2 separate regions of the Homo sapiens genome follow, and region 1 is linked to region 2. Evidence: fine-mapped expression QTL. Tissue or cell type: whole blood. Region 2 holds a variant in brackets; the other region holds the start of a gene. All regions are shown on one strand. Distances are from middle to middle.

Evidence for each region. PIP is the estimated chance that this variant, and not a neighbour inherited with it, causes the effect.
Region 1: it holds the start of NUP205, and the variant in region 2 is fine-mapped to the expression of NUP205 in whole blood (INTERVAL, PIP above 0.99).

The regions. Positions count from the first base shown.
Region 1 is chr7:135,554,243-135,562,351 of GRCh38, forward strand. NUP205 (nucleoporin 205) reads left to right here and starts at 3,675. Exons shown (of 43, transcript NM_015135.3): 1 at 3,675-3,730. The coding sequence starts at 3,703. RefSeq lists enhancers at 3,516-3,645, 4,026-4,075, 4,136-4,195, 4,266-4,385.
Region 2 is chr7:135,608,482-135,616,590 of GRCh38, forward strand. NUP205 (nucleoporin 205) reads left to right here. Exons shown (of 43, transcript NM_015135.3): 23 at 5,678-5,792; 24 at 7,435-7,584. Among named protein-coding and RNA genes, the nearest start is that of STMP1, 50 kb to the right of the region's middle. The variant G/A (reference allele first, on the strand shown) is at 4,461.

The DNA.
Region 1 (8,109 bases), 54 kb before region 2:
ATCTCCGCCTCCCTGGTTGACACCATTCTCCTGCCTCAGCCTCCTGAGTAGCTGGGACTACAGGTGCCCTCTACCATACCTGGCTAATTTTTTGTATTTTTAGTAGAGATGGGGTTTCACCGTGTTAGCCAGGATGGTCTCAATCTCCTGACCTCGTGATCTGCCCGCCTCGGCCTCCCAAAGTGCTGGGATTACAGGTGTGAGGCACTGCGCCTGGCCATATTTTTTTTTCCTTTTTTTTGAGACAGAGTTTCACTCTTCTTGCCCAGGGTGGAGTGCAATGGCGTGATCTTGGCTCACCGCAACCTCTGCCTCCCGGGTTCAAGCAATTCTCCTGCCTCAGCCTCCTGAGTAGCTGGCATTATAGGCATGTGCCACCACGCCCAGCTAATTTTGTATTTTTAGTAGAGACGGGGTTTCTCCATGTTGGTCAGGCTGGTCTCGAACTCCTGACCTCAGGTGATCTGCCTGTCTTGGCCTCCCAAAGTGCTAGGATTACAGGCGTGAGCCACCGTGTCCGGTCATGTTTTTTTGTATTTAAAAATCACTTTCAGGCTGGGCACAGTGACTCATGCCTGTAATTTCAGTGTTTTGGGAAGCCGAGGTTAAGAGTTCGAGACCAGCCTGGCTAACATGGCAAACCCCCGCCCCCCGCCATGTACTAAAAATACAAAAATTAGCCGGGTGTGGTGAAATGCCCCTGTAATCCCAGCTACTCAGGAGGCTGAGGCACAAGAATCGCTTGAACCCGGGAGGTGGAGGCTGCAGTGAGCCAAGATTGCACCACTGCACTCCAGCGACAGAGTGAAACTGTGTCTTGAAATAAATTAATAAAATAAAATAAAAAATAAAAATCACCTTAGGAGTCCATGAAAGGAAGATCAGATGGAAATAAGAAAGACAAATGAGAAGGCTATTGCAAAATACCAAGTTTAAGAAGATGAGACTTGAACAATGGCATAGAAAGCAGAGAAGAGGAAAAGGGTTCCAGAAATATTTGTGAGGTAGAATGAACAGGATTTGACAATTGAAGGAAGAATACAGAAAGAATCCCAGGTTTCCGATTTTGGCAACTGGGTGGGGATACAGGTGGCAGAGTTTTAGGGGAAAAGTGATCATTTACGTTTCAGACATGTTGGTTTTGAAACGCCTGTGTGGCAATCAATACAGATATGAAGTAGAGAGTTGGTTCTACAAATATGAAGCTCAAGAGAGAGGACTGGACTAGAGATACAAACACAGAATTCATCAGCAAGCAGGTGGTAGTAAGAAACCATAAGATGTCCCACAGAAAGCATGTAGAATGAAAAGGACAGAAACTAGAGATGACTATAGGGGAAGAGCTAGATTTAGTGGGTAGAAGAGGAAGAGAAGTCCACGTAAAACACTAAAAAAGAACTGGAAAGAGGAGGAAAACCAGTATCATTGGTGCCCCAGTAGCCACAGGATAATATAATTTTGTTTCTTTCTTTTTCTTTTCTTTTTCTTTTTTTTTTTTTGAGGCAGAGTTTTTACTCTGTTACCCAGGCTGGAGTGCAATGGTGCGATCTCGGCTCACTGCAACCTCTGCCTCTGGGGTTCAAGCGATTCTCCTGCCTTAGTCTCCCAAGTAGCTGGGATTACAGGAGTCCTGTCACCACGCCCAGCTAATTTTGTATTTTTAGTAGAGACAAGGTTTCACCATGTTGGCCAGGCTGGTCTCGAACTCTTGACCTCAGGTGATTCTCCCACCTCAGCGTCCCATAGTGCTAGGATTACCGGCGTGCGCCACTGCACCCGGCCTATAACTATCATAATTCAGAAAAGTGCCCATGGAATTTGATGACTGATAACTGGTAAACATACCAAGCGCAGTTTTAGAGGGGCTTATGATGGCAATATCCCAATTGCTACGAATTGAAGAAGCCTGTGAGAGAATGCTTGTAAAGTGTAATGACAGGTGAAGAGGAGTTGCTGGAATTTAAAGAGTTACTTTATAGAAAGCAAAGTTATCTACTGAGAGGGAAGCGTGTGGGCTTAAAAAGTGCATGTGGAGAGGGAAAGGCTTGTAATAGCTGTGCTGAGAGAGAAATCTTTGAATGCCGCTTCCTGTCAAGTTCCTGCTCAGTATTCTTCTCAGTTTCATGATAAACTTCTTGAAAAATTCCTTTGCGTTTACTTTCTCTCTTCCCCACTTCACTCCTTAAAACCACTTTAATCGTAGTTTGGCATTTGTCTCTATATATCAATGACTTTTAGAAAAAATCACCAGTGATTTTTGTGTTTCAAACCTAATGTACATTGTGTCACTTGATATTATTTGTTCAAAAGAATAAATGTTCTGTTCTGGATATTCTTTTTTTTTTTAAATGGAGTCTCACTCACTCTGTTGCCTAGGCTGGAGTGCAGTGGTATGATCTCAGCTCACTGCAACCTCCACCTCCCGGGTTCAAGGGATTCTCCTGCCTCAGCCTTCCGAACAGCTGGGGTTACAGGTGCGTGCCGCCATGCCTGGCTAATTTTTGTATTTTTAGTAGAGACGGGGTTTCACCTTCCTGGCCAGGCTGGTCTCAAACACTTGACCTTAAGTGATCGCCTGCCTTGGCCTCCCAAAGTGCTGGGATTACAGGCATAAGCCACTGCGCCCTGCCAGTTCTGGATATTCTTAACATACTCTATGCTTTTGTCTAAATTATTTGATTCTGATTTCCAACAGTGAAATGGGAATGATGGAGAGTTAATACAATGAGATTGTAAGGCACATGGAGCGTCTCTGACATAAATAGTTATAATCATATCATTTTCCCAATAGAATGGTTTGCAGGGATTAAATGAGATAATGGCTATAAAATTTTTCTTAATACATAGCTGTAAATAGCAATGATTATTTACATTTTAGTTTGAAAATCAGCAAACTAAAATTTAACAGCTGAAGAAAGAGTTCAGCTACTTTGGGTGCTCAGGTAGAAAAATACTTGGTGATTATGAAACGATATGTCTGGAATCTGTTTCAAACTAATCGGGGGCGGGGGGTGGGGAGGGGAGGGTGTTGGGGTGGTAAGGGTGGGTTGGGGCTGCCGTGGTGGGAAATTGGCCACGTTATTGATGCTGAGTGTTTGCTATTCTAATTTTGTATCCGTTTGAAAATTTTATAATTAAAAATTATGATTTGTTTCGCTCTACGCAACTATGTTGACAGAATATATTTGGTAAACTGAAATGTCACGGAAACTTAGTTTGTAACCGGTCAGTGGCTTTTTGAGGTGTAGACACTTCATACCTTACTTCACTCCCCACTGTAAGGAAGATTTAACTTGAAGCGGAGATAATGATTTGAATTTACGGCTTTTATAATGTCATAAATGGGCGTCATTTTAATAACTACTCTCAGAATATCTTTTTCTATTCCACTTTACTTTTTCCTCTCCACTTAACCAACTCATCATTAGAAACTACAAGTCCCAGGATGCACTACACGATGAACGTCGGATCGAGGACCTCGTGTCTCTGAAGTGGTTGCCCTCGCCTTATTTGAATGGGAATAATCCCAATGAAAATTGATGTTTGTGACCCAGAGCAGATTCTGGAGCCTTTTGTACGCCTGGGACGGCCCAGCGTGGAGGGGACAGTGTGGTGCCTTTTTGTTCAGGCTTCGCTCAGGTCAGCCTCACCCTTTCCCGGGGCCTCCATGCGGCAGAAGGGCTCTGTTAGTGCGCCTCTAAGATGGCGACGCCTTTGGCGGTAAATTCGGGTAAGTGTGGCCAGACAGAAAGACGATTGAGCTGAGCGATAACCAGGTCTTCATGGAGAGACGAGACCGTGAGGTTTCTCGGAGTCTAGGACCCCACTTATGTGCGGTGCCTGCTTTTCCCTAATTCTGGGCCTAGAGTCCCACCCCTCCCCAGTTTGAATGGCGCGCGTCGGTGCTGCGGCTCCAGCCCTCGAGTTGGGGTTTGAGATTCCAGGCAGTGAGGCTTGGGCCGCTGGACCCAGGTGTGTAATCTCTCACAGCCCAGGGCTGAGTCTGGTCCCCCTCACCCCCAAGTTTCACTGTGCGTCTGTGGTCCCGATTTCGCTGGAATACGCATCAGGTCTTCCACAGTGAAGCCAGAGGACCCGAGATATTTTCCAGCCATGAGCAGAGGCTGAAAGTAGGCGTCGGAGTTCCTTATAGGGTGGGAGATCTTGCAGGCAGCGAATACTCCCTATTATGAAGTCGGCCATCTGAAAGGTGGTCAGGAAGAGGGTGGCGGGGCTTCAGCAGACGTCTTCTAACCCTGCGGATGTGGTTAGGCCCTGGATGTTCTTGTACCTTTGGAGCTGTAGATTTTCGGGGTGGAATTGAATCTAGAAGGTAGTAAAGGAACTCTGGAAGATTTGGGGTGGATCCTCTTTCGGTGATTCTCAATTCGGGCCGTACCGCCCTCCAGTGGTGTTTGAATGAGTGAGTGCATTTTGATTGTCATATTTCCTGGGGTACACTGCTGTCGCATAGTAGGCGGGGCAAGGATGCAGAAAGTCCTTCATGGTCAGAGCAGTCCGGAAAAATAATTTGGTGCCTAGAATGTTAATGCCTCGATTGAGATGCTCTGAAGTTCGCGGGCAAGATTAAGAGTATATCTGTGTGGTAAATGCTTGTGAGAATCTCACTTAAAAGGACTCTTTTTTAAAGTATTGGTTCTATTTTCCACAGGACTGATATTCTTGAAAAGTTGTCTAAATCTGTTTTGTAAATCAAATCATTTCAGAAAAGCTATGATAAATTATAATGAAGGCTATGTTTACTGAACACATACTATATCCCAGCATTGCACTTATTATCGTGCTTATCTCATTCAGTTCCCGTTTATACACCTTTGGAGTAGTTACTGTTACATACTCCGTTTTACAGATTTGGAAATAGAGGCTTCAAATAGTTACGTAATGTCCCCAGAGTTAAACATCTAATGATCTAAGTCAGTCTTAGGTGCTTAAACTACTTAGTGCTACTGCTTAAGCACAACCTAATTCATTTTATGATATTAGACGTATATATTAGAAGGTTAGTAATGAAGTTACATGCTTAATATTGCGGTCCTTCCTTCCCAATTAGATATGCTTAACGTGTGGTTGTATATAATACATTTCTCTATTTTATTTTATTTTTTAATTTTTCTTTTTGAGATGGAGTCTTGCTCTGTCTCCCAGGCGGGAGTGCAGTGATGCGATCCGCGATCCTGGCTCGCTGCAACCTCTGCCTCCCAGGTTGAAGCAATTCTCCTGCCTCAGCCTCCTGAGTAGCTGGGATTACAGGCATGTGCCACCACGCTGGGCTAATTTTTGTATTTTTAGTAGAGGTGGGGTTTCTCCATGTTGGCTAGGCTGATCTCGAACTGCTGTCCTCAAGCGATCTTTCTGCCTCGGCCTCCCAAAGTGGTAGGTTTACAGGTGTGAGCCAGTACGCAAGGTATACACATTTATTTTCCTTTTTTTTTTTTTTCTTTTTTTGAGATGGAGTCTCATCCTGTCCACCCAGGCTGGAGTGCAGTGGCGTGATCTCGGCTCACTGCAGCCTCCACCTCCTGGGTTGGAGCAACTCTCCTGCCTCAGCCTCTGAAGTAACTGGGATTACAGGCGCCCGCCACCATGCTTGGCTAGCCTGGCTAATTTTTTTTTGAGATGGAGTCTCACTCTGTTGCCCGGGCTGGAGTGCAGTGGCACGATCTTGGCTCACTGCAACGTCCGCCTCCTGGGTTCAAGCGATTCCCCTGCCTCAGCCTCCCGAGGGGCTGGGATTACAGGCGCCCGCCACTACACCCAGCTAATTTTTTGTATTTGTAGTAGAGAAGGGGTTTCACCATATTGGCCAGGCTGGTCTCGAGCTCCTGACCCCGTGATTCACTCCCTTCAGCCTCCCAAAGTGCTGGGATTACAGGTGTGAGCCACTGCGCCTGGCCAATTTTTTTTGTATTTTTAGTAGAGACGGGGTTTCACCATGTTGGCCAGACTGGTCTCAAACTCCTGACCTCAGGTGATCCGCCTACCTCGGCATCCCAAAGTGCTGGGATTACAGGCGTGAGCCACTGTGCCTGGCCTATATACATTCCTTTAGTACATACTCGCCCTAAGCTATTATAATTATTAAACAAATCATTGGAGGGAAAAGGAGTTGCCAACAGCAGCAAAGAGTGTACATTGTATAATAAAGCCTTGTGTCAGGAGTGTTTAATTGGCAACATAGGAAACATTTTTAAAAGCCAAGAGTCAGGAGCTGGTTTTTTAAAAAACTAAACGTCTTAGGGAAGGAACTCTTTTTCCATCAAGGAATGAATGTTGGGTTGAGTGGGTAAAGGAAATGTGTCATATACATGCAATATGCATAATACATATACATGCATATACATAACATAACGTATACATGCATATATATAGTATCCTTATGCAGCCTTAAAAAGGAAGGAAATCCTGTCACATAAAACAACGTGGATGAAACTTGAGGACATACTAAGTGAAATAAGCCAGTCACAAGACACAAATACTACATGATTCCACTTATATGAGGTATCTGAAGTAGTCATACTCATAGAAACAGAAAGTAGAATGGTGGTTGCCAGGGGCTGGGAAAGGGGAAAGTGGGGAGTTGTTTAGGGGGCATAGAGTTTCTGTTTTGCAAGATGAAAAAAGCTGTGAAGATCTGTTGCACAATGTGAATACACTGAACACTGCTGAACTGTACACTTAAAATTTGTTGAGATTGCATTCTATGTTATGTGCTTCCTTTAAATTACAGTTTTAAAAAATCAAACATCTTGGAGTTGTAAGGAAAAAATACAGAGATTGTAGAGTTCTAAGACCTATGGTTGGCCAGGTGTGGTGGCTTATGCCTGTAATCCCAGCACTTTGGGAGGCTGAAGTGGGCAGATCACCTGAAGTCAGGAGTTCGAGACCAGCCTGGCCAACATGGTGAAACCCTGTCTCTACAAAAATACAAAAATTAGCCTGGCATGATGGCAGGTGTCTGTAATCCCAGCTACTCGGGAGGCTGAGGCAGGAGAATTGCTTGAACCCAGGAGGAGGAGGTTGCAGTGAGCCGAGATCATACCACTGCACTCCAGCCTAGGCAACAGAGCGAGACTCTGTCTTAAAAACAAACAAACAAAAAACAAACAAAAAAACCTATGCTTGTATTTCAGCTGTATAACTTAACTAGTCTTGTGACCTGTATCAACCTGGCTGAGTACACTCACAGACTTGTGAATAAGCAACTATTAACACTGCTTGGCAGTCCTTCTGTGATAGTCTGGTCACCTCGTCCATTCACAGCAGTGACTACTTCAGACCTTTCTACACTCTTCAAATCTTTAACCTGCAACTAACTAAACCCTCAGACTTCTAGTCACAGAGAAAATAGGAGCCAACATACATGAACTCCCTTTATTCACTCTCAAACCTACAAACCTAGGTGTGTCTGCATTCTTTTGAATCACTTTTCCTCTGTCTTCCTATCTAATGTAAATCCCACCCATTGTGTTCTTCACCTGTTACCCCTTTTTTTGTCTTGTATATTCACTTCTCTCTCTTGCTCTTCCCTTTCTCTCCACTGATGATCTCATGCGTCACTCCACTTACTGTCCTCTTCCTAGTCAAGCCTTTCAAAAGATTTGTTAGTATTCATGGACTCCATCTCCTTCCTTCCTTTGTTCCTTCCTTCCTTCCCTCCTTCCTTCCTTCCTTCCTTCCCTCCCTCCCTCACTCTGCCCAGGCTGGAGTGCAGTGGTGCAGTCTCGGCTCACTGCAGTCTCCACCTCCCAAGTTTAAATGATTCTCCTGCCTCAGCCTAGTAGCTGGGATTACAGGCCTGAACTGCTATGCCCAGCCTACTGACTCCCTTTTCATACCTCCTATTCCTTCACCCATTCTGGTCTCTTCCATCCTTGTAAACAGCTCTCAATAGGGTTAACTTCTGTTTCTTGTAGTTCAGAAAGTTCCTTTTTAAAAAATTATTTTTTATTTTGAGACAGGGGCTCATTCTGTCGCCCAGACTGGAGTGCGGTGGTGTGATCTCAGCTCACTACAACCTCTGCCTCCCAGGTTCAAGAGATTCTCCTGCCTTAGCCTCCCTAAGTAGCTGGGATTACAGGCGCCCACCAC
Region 2 (8,109 bases):
TGGATCACTTGAGGCCAGGAGTTGGAGACCAGCCGGGGAAACATGGCAAAACCTTGTCTCTGCTGAAAATACAAAAATTAGCTGGGCGTGGTGGCACGTGCCTGTAATCCCAGCTACTTGGGAGGCTGGGGCATGAGAATTGCTTGAACCCAGGAGGTAGAGGTTGCAGTGAGCCAAGATCATGCCACTGCACTCCAGCTGGGTGGCAAAGTGAGACTCTGTCTCAAAAAAAATAAAAATAAATACATAAGTAAACTATAATGATAATTTATAATTTCGCTTGTTCACTTTTGTTTATTGTTTTATTCATTTTATAAGTGTTTTAAAAACTAGGCTTGGCCGCGTGCAGTGACTCACGCCTTTAATCCCAGCACTTTGGGAGGCTAAGGTGAGCAGATCACCTGAGGTTAGGAGTTAGAGACCAGCCTGGCCAACATGGTGGAACCCCATCTCTACTAAAAATACAAAAAAAATTAGCTGGGCCTGGTTGTGGACGCCTGTAATCCTAGCTCCTCAGGAGGCTGAGGCAGGAGAATTGCTTCTACCCGGGAGGCAGAGGTTGCAGTGAACCTAGATCGTGCCACTGTACTCCAGCCTGGGCAACAAGAGCAAAACTCCGTCTCAAAAAAAAAAAAAAAAAAAAGAACCAGGCTTTATAAGCTGTGACTAATTTCTCAATTTAAGTGTTACCCTAAATTTACATTTTTAGGATAAGAAATGGTGGGTCATGAGATCAGGAGATCAAGACCATCCTGGTGAACATGGTGAAACCCCATCTCTACTAAAAATACAAAAATTCATCCTGACTAACACAATGAAACCCCATCTCTACTAAAAATACAAAAAATTAGCCGGGCATGGTGGCTGGCACCTGTGGTCCCAGCTACTCGGGAGGCTGAGGCAGGAGAATGGCGTGAACCCGGGAGGTGGAGCTTGCAGTGAGCCGAGATCGCGCCACTGCACTCCAGCCTAGGCGACAGAGCGAAACTCTGTCCCAGAAAAAAAAAAATACAAAAATTATCCGGGCATGGTGGTGTGTGCCTGTAGTCCCAGCTACTTGGGAAGCTGAGGCAGGAGAATGGCGTGAACTTGGGAGGCGGAGCTTGCAGTGAGCCGAGATCGCACCACTGCACTCCAGCCTGGGCAACAGAGCGAGACCCCATCTCAAAAAAAAAAAAAGAAATGCATCACTAACCTCTTAGTGTTACTGGCATGGATATTTTTCTTTGTTAATCTCCTGCTTTTCTTTTTGTAATTCTTTACTATCTTTTCTGTCCTCCGGCTGTCCAAACATCCCTTCACTGTAAGTACTATAGCTAGGTTTTCCTGTAAATCAAAATTAATTCTTCCTTATGGGGGAACAAATTTGATGTACATATTAGCACAGATTTACAGAATTTGATATATAAGTAGAAACAACTGATAAGCTTAACACCTAGGCTAATGGCAGGTGAAGTAAATGAATGAAGCCAGGGTCCAGTTAAGGGAGTGGGAGGAAAGGAGAATCTGGCAGACTGGAGAGCATGTGCCTTCCTACTCATCCCTGGCTTATTTTACCATGCCAGAGTGCAGGATTTGTTGGGCCAGATTGTCTGAATTTTTATTTTTATTTATTCATTTTTAAAAGAATTTGGAAATCTGAATTTTTGTTAAAGTTGTTCTAACTTTTAGAACACTCTACTAGCCAAGGAAAACATGTCCATACCAGCAGTTTACCAGTTTATAACATACTCTCTGTTGTCGTTGTTACTGTTTTTTGAGATGGAGTCTCACTCTATTGCCCAGGTGGAGTGCAGTGGCACGATCTCAGCTCACCGCAACCTCCACCTCCCGGGTTCAAGCGATTCTCCTGCCTCAGCCTCCCAAGTAGCAGGGATTACAGGCATGTGCCATCACACCCGGCTAATTTTGTATTTTTAGTAGAGAGGGGGCTTCACCATGTTGTCCAGGCTGGTCTCAAACTCCTGACCTTAGGTGATCCACCCGCCTTGGCCTCCCAAAGTGCTGAGATTACAGGCGTGAGCCACCGTGCCCGGCCATAACATATGCTCTGTGACCTTGCTACTCAAATATGGCCCAGGGACCAGTATCATCAGCATTATCTCCTAGGAGCTTATTAGTGCAGAATCTGAGGCCCCACTTTAGACCTGATGAGTCAGGATCTGCATTTTTACAGAAAGCACTGCTCCATTTATAACTAAATATACTCCCTATACCTATATGTTTGTACTTCACCCTGCTTCAGAAAAAAATTTAAACCTCTAAGTAAGAAGAGCTTGTTAGTTTAAATAAATCTGATTGTAGCAAAGGGAAATGGTCCTTACTGATACCTTCCTTGTCCTGCAACACAAGGGCTTCTGGGTGAAGAAGTTGAGGCCTGGTGCCTTTGCCCTCTTTTCTTTAAGAACGGAGATTTCTTCTACCTGGTCCCTGGTCTTGGAAACCAGGAAGGATATAGCCCACATCTTAATAAAATGGCTTTCAGTGCTTTTTGAACTCACTTTTTGTGTCCTTCTCTTCTTTTTTTTTTTTTTTTGGGTGGGGGACAGAGTCTTGCTCTGTCGCCTTGCCTGGAGTGCAGTGGTGTGGTCTCGGCTCACTGCAACCTCCATCTCCCAGGTTCAAGCAATTCTCGTGCCTCAGTCTCCCAAGTAGCTGGGATTACAGGCGTCCCTGGGCCACCACGCCTGGATAATTTTTGTATTTTTAGTGGAGACGGGGTTTCACCATGTTGGCCAGGGTGGTCTCAAACTCCTGACCTCAGGTGATCCGTCCACCTTGGCCTCCCAAAGTGCTGGGATTACATGCGTGAGTCACTGCCTGGCAGTTCTCTTCTGATAGTATTATTTCTTCCACTTGTTAGAGTATCTTCTTGTGTTTTCTTAACTCCCCCAGTAATAGACCTAACTGATTTTGTTTTGAGAAGTTCGGTATTAGCTTAAGTTTTTGTTTGTTTATAGAATATCAAAATGGTATCAAAACTGTTTAAAAGGTCAATGTACATCTGTAGCAGAGCTTTTTACTCTTTTCCTTGTCTTCTTTCTCTTTGTGTATATACATTGTTTATAGTTGTATTCAGTATACATGAAATTTTGTGTCTTTTTTACTCCTCTCTGTATAAACTTTCTGTGCTGCAACAATGTAAATTACATTCAGGTTGTTTCCAGTTTTTTTTTTACTCTGCTGTAGCGAACAAAAAAACAAAAATTAGCCAGGCGTTATGCCATGTGCCTGTTAATCCCAGGTACTTGGGAGGCTGAGGCAGGAGAATCGCTTGAACCTGGGAGGTGGCAGTTGTAAATAAATAAATTACCTTTGGTTGTTTTGTATTTTTCTTAAGAATATATTTCCAGGCGGGCACTGTGGGTCACACCTGTAATCCCAGCACTTTGGGAGGCTGAGGCGGGTGGATCATGAGGTCAGGAGATCAAGACCATCCTGGCTAACACGGTGAAACCCCGTCTCTACTAAAAATACAAAAACAAAATATTAGCCGGGTATGGTGGTGGGCACCTGTAGTCCCAGCTACTCAGGAGGCTGAGGCGGGAGAATGGCATGAACCCGGGACGTGGAGCTTGCAGTGAGCCGAGATCGCGCCACTGCACTCCAGCCTGAGCGACAGAATGAAACTGCATCTCAAAAAAAACAGAAGAAAAAAAAACAGAATATATTTCCAGACAAGGGTTTATAGTCAGTTCTCGTTATTCACAGTAGTTGTGTTTTATAAAGTCATTGTGAAAACTGAATTGGTGAATTCATTGCCCCTATGGAAAATACAGGCTAGGATTCCTGCAAGTGTCTGGTTCCAACATTCTTGTCAACTGATGAATTCATAATCATGTTTTATGTGTGTTTCTGTTTAAAGACACCTTACTTAATGTAGTTGATTCATTAACATTAAACTCATAGCCAACAGCACTATAACTCAGCCTGAATGAAATTTATCTAATGTAGTATTTTATCTTAAAGGCATATCACAGCCTTTTTGCACTTAGGGACAAGGCAGCATTTCAGCACTATGCTTGGGGGCTGTTTTAAACAGCAAAATCAACAAAAAGCACAAAAATGCAAAAAACGTGGCACTAAATAGACCATTTAAAGAACCCTTTTTATAGTATGATAGCTGGAACAGGAAAAGCATTGCTCCATTAGAGAGCATGAGAGTTCGGTGACTGCAGTTTGTAGCTGTTCTCCCGCGCATGAAGGACCATGGAAGCACTGCAAGTATTGATTTTGGGATTTTAAATAAATTTTAGCATGTTAGGTGAATTTGCAAATATGGAATCTGTAAATAATGAGGATTGACTGTGTTGGGTCAAAGACTATCAAGAGTTTTGGCTTTAGATTTTAATTCACAAGTAGTCATAACAATTATACTAGGTATTAATAGTGCTCAGAATAAACATGTCTTAAAGTGCCTGGTACATGGAAAGCATCTAATAAATGTTCATATTAGCCAC[G/A]CATGGTGGCATGCAATTACTGTAGTCCCAGCTACTCAGAAGGCTGAGCTGGGAGGATCACTTTAGCCCAGGAGGTTGAGGCTGCAGTGAGCTGTGATTGCACCACTGTACTCCAACCTGGGTGACAGAGTGAGACCCTGACTCAAAAAAAAAAAAAATTTGCTGATTTATAATATGATACCTACCTATTATCATCTTGATTTTTTTTTTTAATTCCTGAAAACAGATGGACATTTTTTATTATGGGCTATTTTTATTTTTCTCATATAAAATGTCTTTTACCATATGGGCTACTTTTACCATCTGGGGTACTTAGATCTTTATGTTATTCATATCTGTAATGGAGATCTTTATATATATTAGAGCTAGCAACTTTTTCTTATATTTAATATAAGAACTTTTTCTCTTATCTATTCTTTTTTGTTAAATTTTTATTCAGTTTATTGTTATTTAGTTGAATTTATGGATCTTCTTTGTAATTTCTGCATTTGCTTTAGTTTTGGTAATTTTAATCTTCCAGAGGTTGAGATGTAACTCTTATGGTTCTCAGAAGTTATTTCCAAGTAATTTGCTACTAATAATTTTTTTCTTTTCTTTTTTTTTCTTTTTTTTTTGAGACAGGGTCTTGCCCTGTCACCAGGCTGGAGTGCAGTGTCATGATCTTGGCTCACTGCAACCTCCACCTCCAGGGTTTAAGTGATTAATCTGCCTCAGCCTTCCGAGTAGTTGGGATTACAGGCACACGCTACCATGCCTGGCTAATTTTTGTATTTTTATAGAGACAGAGTTTCACCATGTTGAGCAGACTGGTCTCAAACTCCTGACCTCAAGTAATCTGCCCACCTCAGCCTCCCAAAGTGTTGGGAGGTGAGCCACCGTGCCCGGCCTGCTACTAATAATTAAGCTAAAATACTAAAATGTACTATATGTGTATAGTAAAATTAACTATATGTGTATATATTAATAAGTATATTAATAATAGTTGTGTAATAATGTCACCAGCACTCCATTGTATTTCAGTGTATTTTCTTGAGCTAGGTTGCCAAGGACTGTTCATAACTCTGAGCTTATGTTTTGTGCATCTGTTTGTCCATTTTACTTGAGTTGTTGATGGGTCCTAGTTTTTCACTTAGTAGGTCTAAGTTCATATTTTGTTACCATAATATGTGTAACACAGAAAGACTGATTCAGGGATTTTTCTTACTTTAATGCTTTAGGTCATATATCAGTTATGTGCATGCTCTGATACATCTGGTCCTACTATGAGGTACTTGAGAACCAGCCAGGATTTCTTATTTTCCCAGTTGCAGTATCTACCATTTTCTAACAAAGGTAGGCCATTATTTTCCCGTATTTATAAGAACACATTTATAATTCCATGTTAAGTGATTTTATTTATACAATATTTGGGGGAATTCTGTTCTCATTCTGATACTTTGGCTTCTTTGTTATTTTGGGTTCTTTTTGTAATTTCTGCTTAAAGAAGGCTGATATTTTAACTGCTAGCAAAAACTTATTTAAATATAGCCTATCAAGGATGGAATTTGATTCTCTTACAACAAATAAAATTTAAAGATTGTGTTGAAGGGATTAGAAAATTAATGGGAATTTAAAGTTTTTGAATGAAAATTGTTTTACGAAGATTTCTGATTTTCTCTTCCCAGGCTGTTTATGAGGAAAAAAAAAATCCTGGTTTATTTTTGTTTCTTGTGTTTGTATTGAAACCAATTCAGATCTTGAAATGAAAAGTTGAAAACTAATTATGGTAGAAAACAGTTTTAACTTAGTTTATTGACATGGCTAACAATTATTCCAGGCTAATGCAGTCTTATCGAGATTCTACTTTATTTTCTTTTTGACCAACTTTTAACAGTTTTCTGAATTCAGACTATATTCAGACAGTCTTAGTCTGTTGAGTTTTTTAAAAGTTTAGCTTGTGTCATCTTTATGTTTTAGGAAGTTGAGGCTCACACATGCCATAAACAAATTTCTATTACTAGTAATTGTCAGCATCTAATTTACCTTTTAGAGTAATGGCGTTAGACCTCTGAGAATTATCTAATGGCAAAAGGTTTTTCACTCTATTTTCATAAGTGTCTTATTTTTAGTTCTGGGATTTTGTTTAAGAAGCTTTTAGAAACCCTCTTTACACCTAATTAAAAATAAAAATTAACATCTTACCTATTATGGTATGTGTTTTATAAAACTTCATTTAGCTTTGCCTGAAATTATTATTAGTATTGTTATATGGTTAATTTTATGTTTATACTGTCACAGTTTAGGGTTTCAATGTCAAGCATATTAAAATAGTATTGGATTAAAAAAATCTTATTGTAGGACCAGGCACAGTGGCTCGCGCCTATAATCCCAGTGCTTAGGTAGGCTGAGACAGGAGGAACACTGAGGCAAGGAGTTCAAGTACAGCCTGGGCAATAGAGTGAGACCCTGTCTCTACAATAAAAAATAAATAAATAAAAATAAAAACTATTGTATAAGTGATTCTCAGCCTTAATTAAATGTTAAACCACATCATTAATTGAGGTATTATAAAATCATGCAATTTAAGTTTAATTTTTCTTATGTATTTGTTTTGTGAAATCAAAACCAAACTATGATAGTTTTTTGAGTTATGTATTTGAAAATTACTTTAAAATATTGTTTTATATATCAGTGTCAAAATACGATAGATTCAGGATCTTTGTGAAATTAAAATCAGTAATGAAAACTTGATTCTCTTTTACTCTTCATTTACTTTAGCCCATCTTTCGTAAATTTATACTAGCTTATTTTTTTCTTTCTTGGTATCTTTTTTTTCCTCTTGTAATTTTACAGAGTGAGAAATTATTATGTTGCTGAGTTTCATAAATTATTGACTTTGTTACATGGGAAAATATCTGTTGAGTTACAGAATTTAAGTCTGTTTTGATACTGTGTTATTACTCTGGGAAACAAAATTTACATGTTTAAATTCTAGAATATGAAATATCTATGCTGAACCAGATGTCATGGCTTATGAAAACTGCCTCAATAGAGCTAAGGGTAACCTCTCTGAATCGTCAGCGGTCACATACCCAGAGGCTCCTACACCTCTTACTGGATGACATGCCAGTGAAACCATACTCAGGTGAGTATTAGTATTTGTTTTATTGTGCTGGTGACTAGTTGTCGTGAAGACAAGCACAAATCTGAAGCTTGTGCTTAGTATGTGACTATAGACCAAAACTATCTTCTCACTTTTAGAATTTTTTTTTCTTAAAACACAAAAATTTTAACTCATCTTATGATTGTCATTTATTATTATTTTAAGCATCCATATTACACTATAATCATACCGGTATTATATACAAAATTGTCAGTGGAGTTTGTCATACTGAGCCAGCATGACCTAAGCTATTTCAGTATGTATTATTCATGCAAATTAAGCATAAACTTTTAAAATCATCTCATTGGCATGATTGGGTCTTGCCATTTTTGAGAATCTGATTATTCTCTTTACAATTGTGCAGTGGATTCCATAGGGACAGAAATAATTAGATTAATGTTGGTAGTAAATCCTCATCAATCTTTACATTTTAATTATCCATTTGCACAGGGCTCTTTGATGTAGAAACAATGACCTAGAAATAAGATACCTTGTGTTTGTTATTTC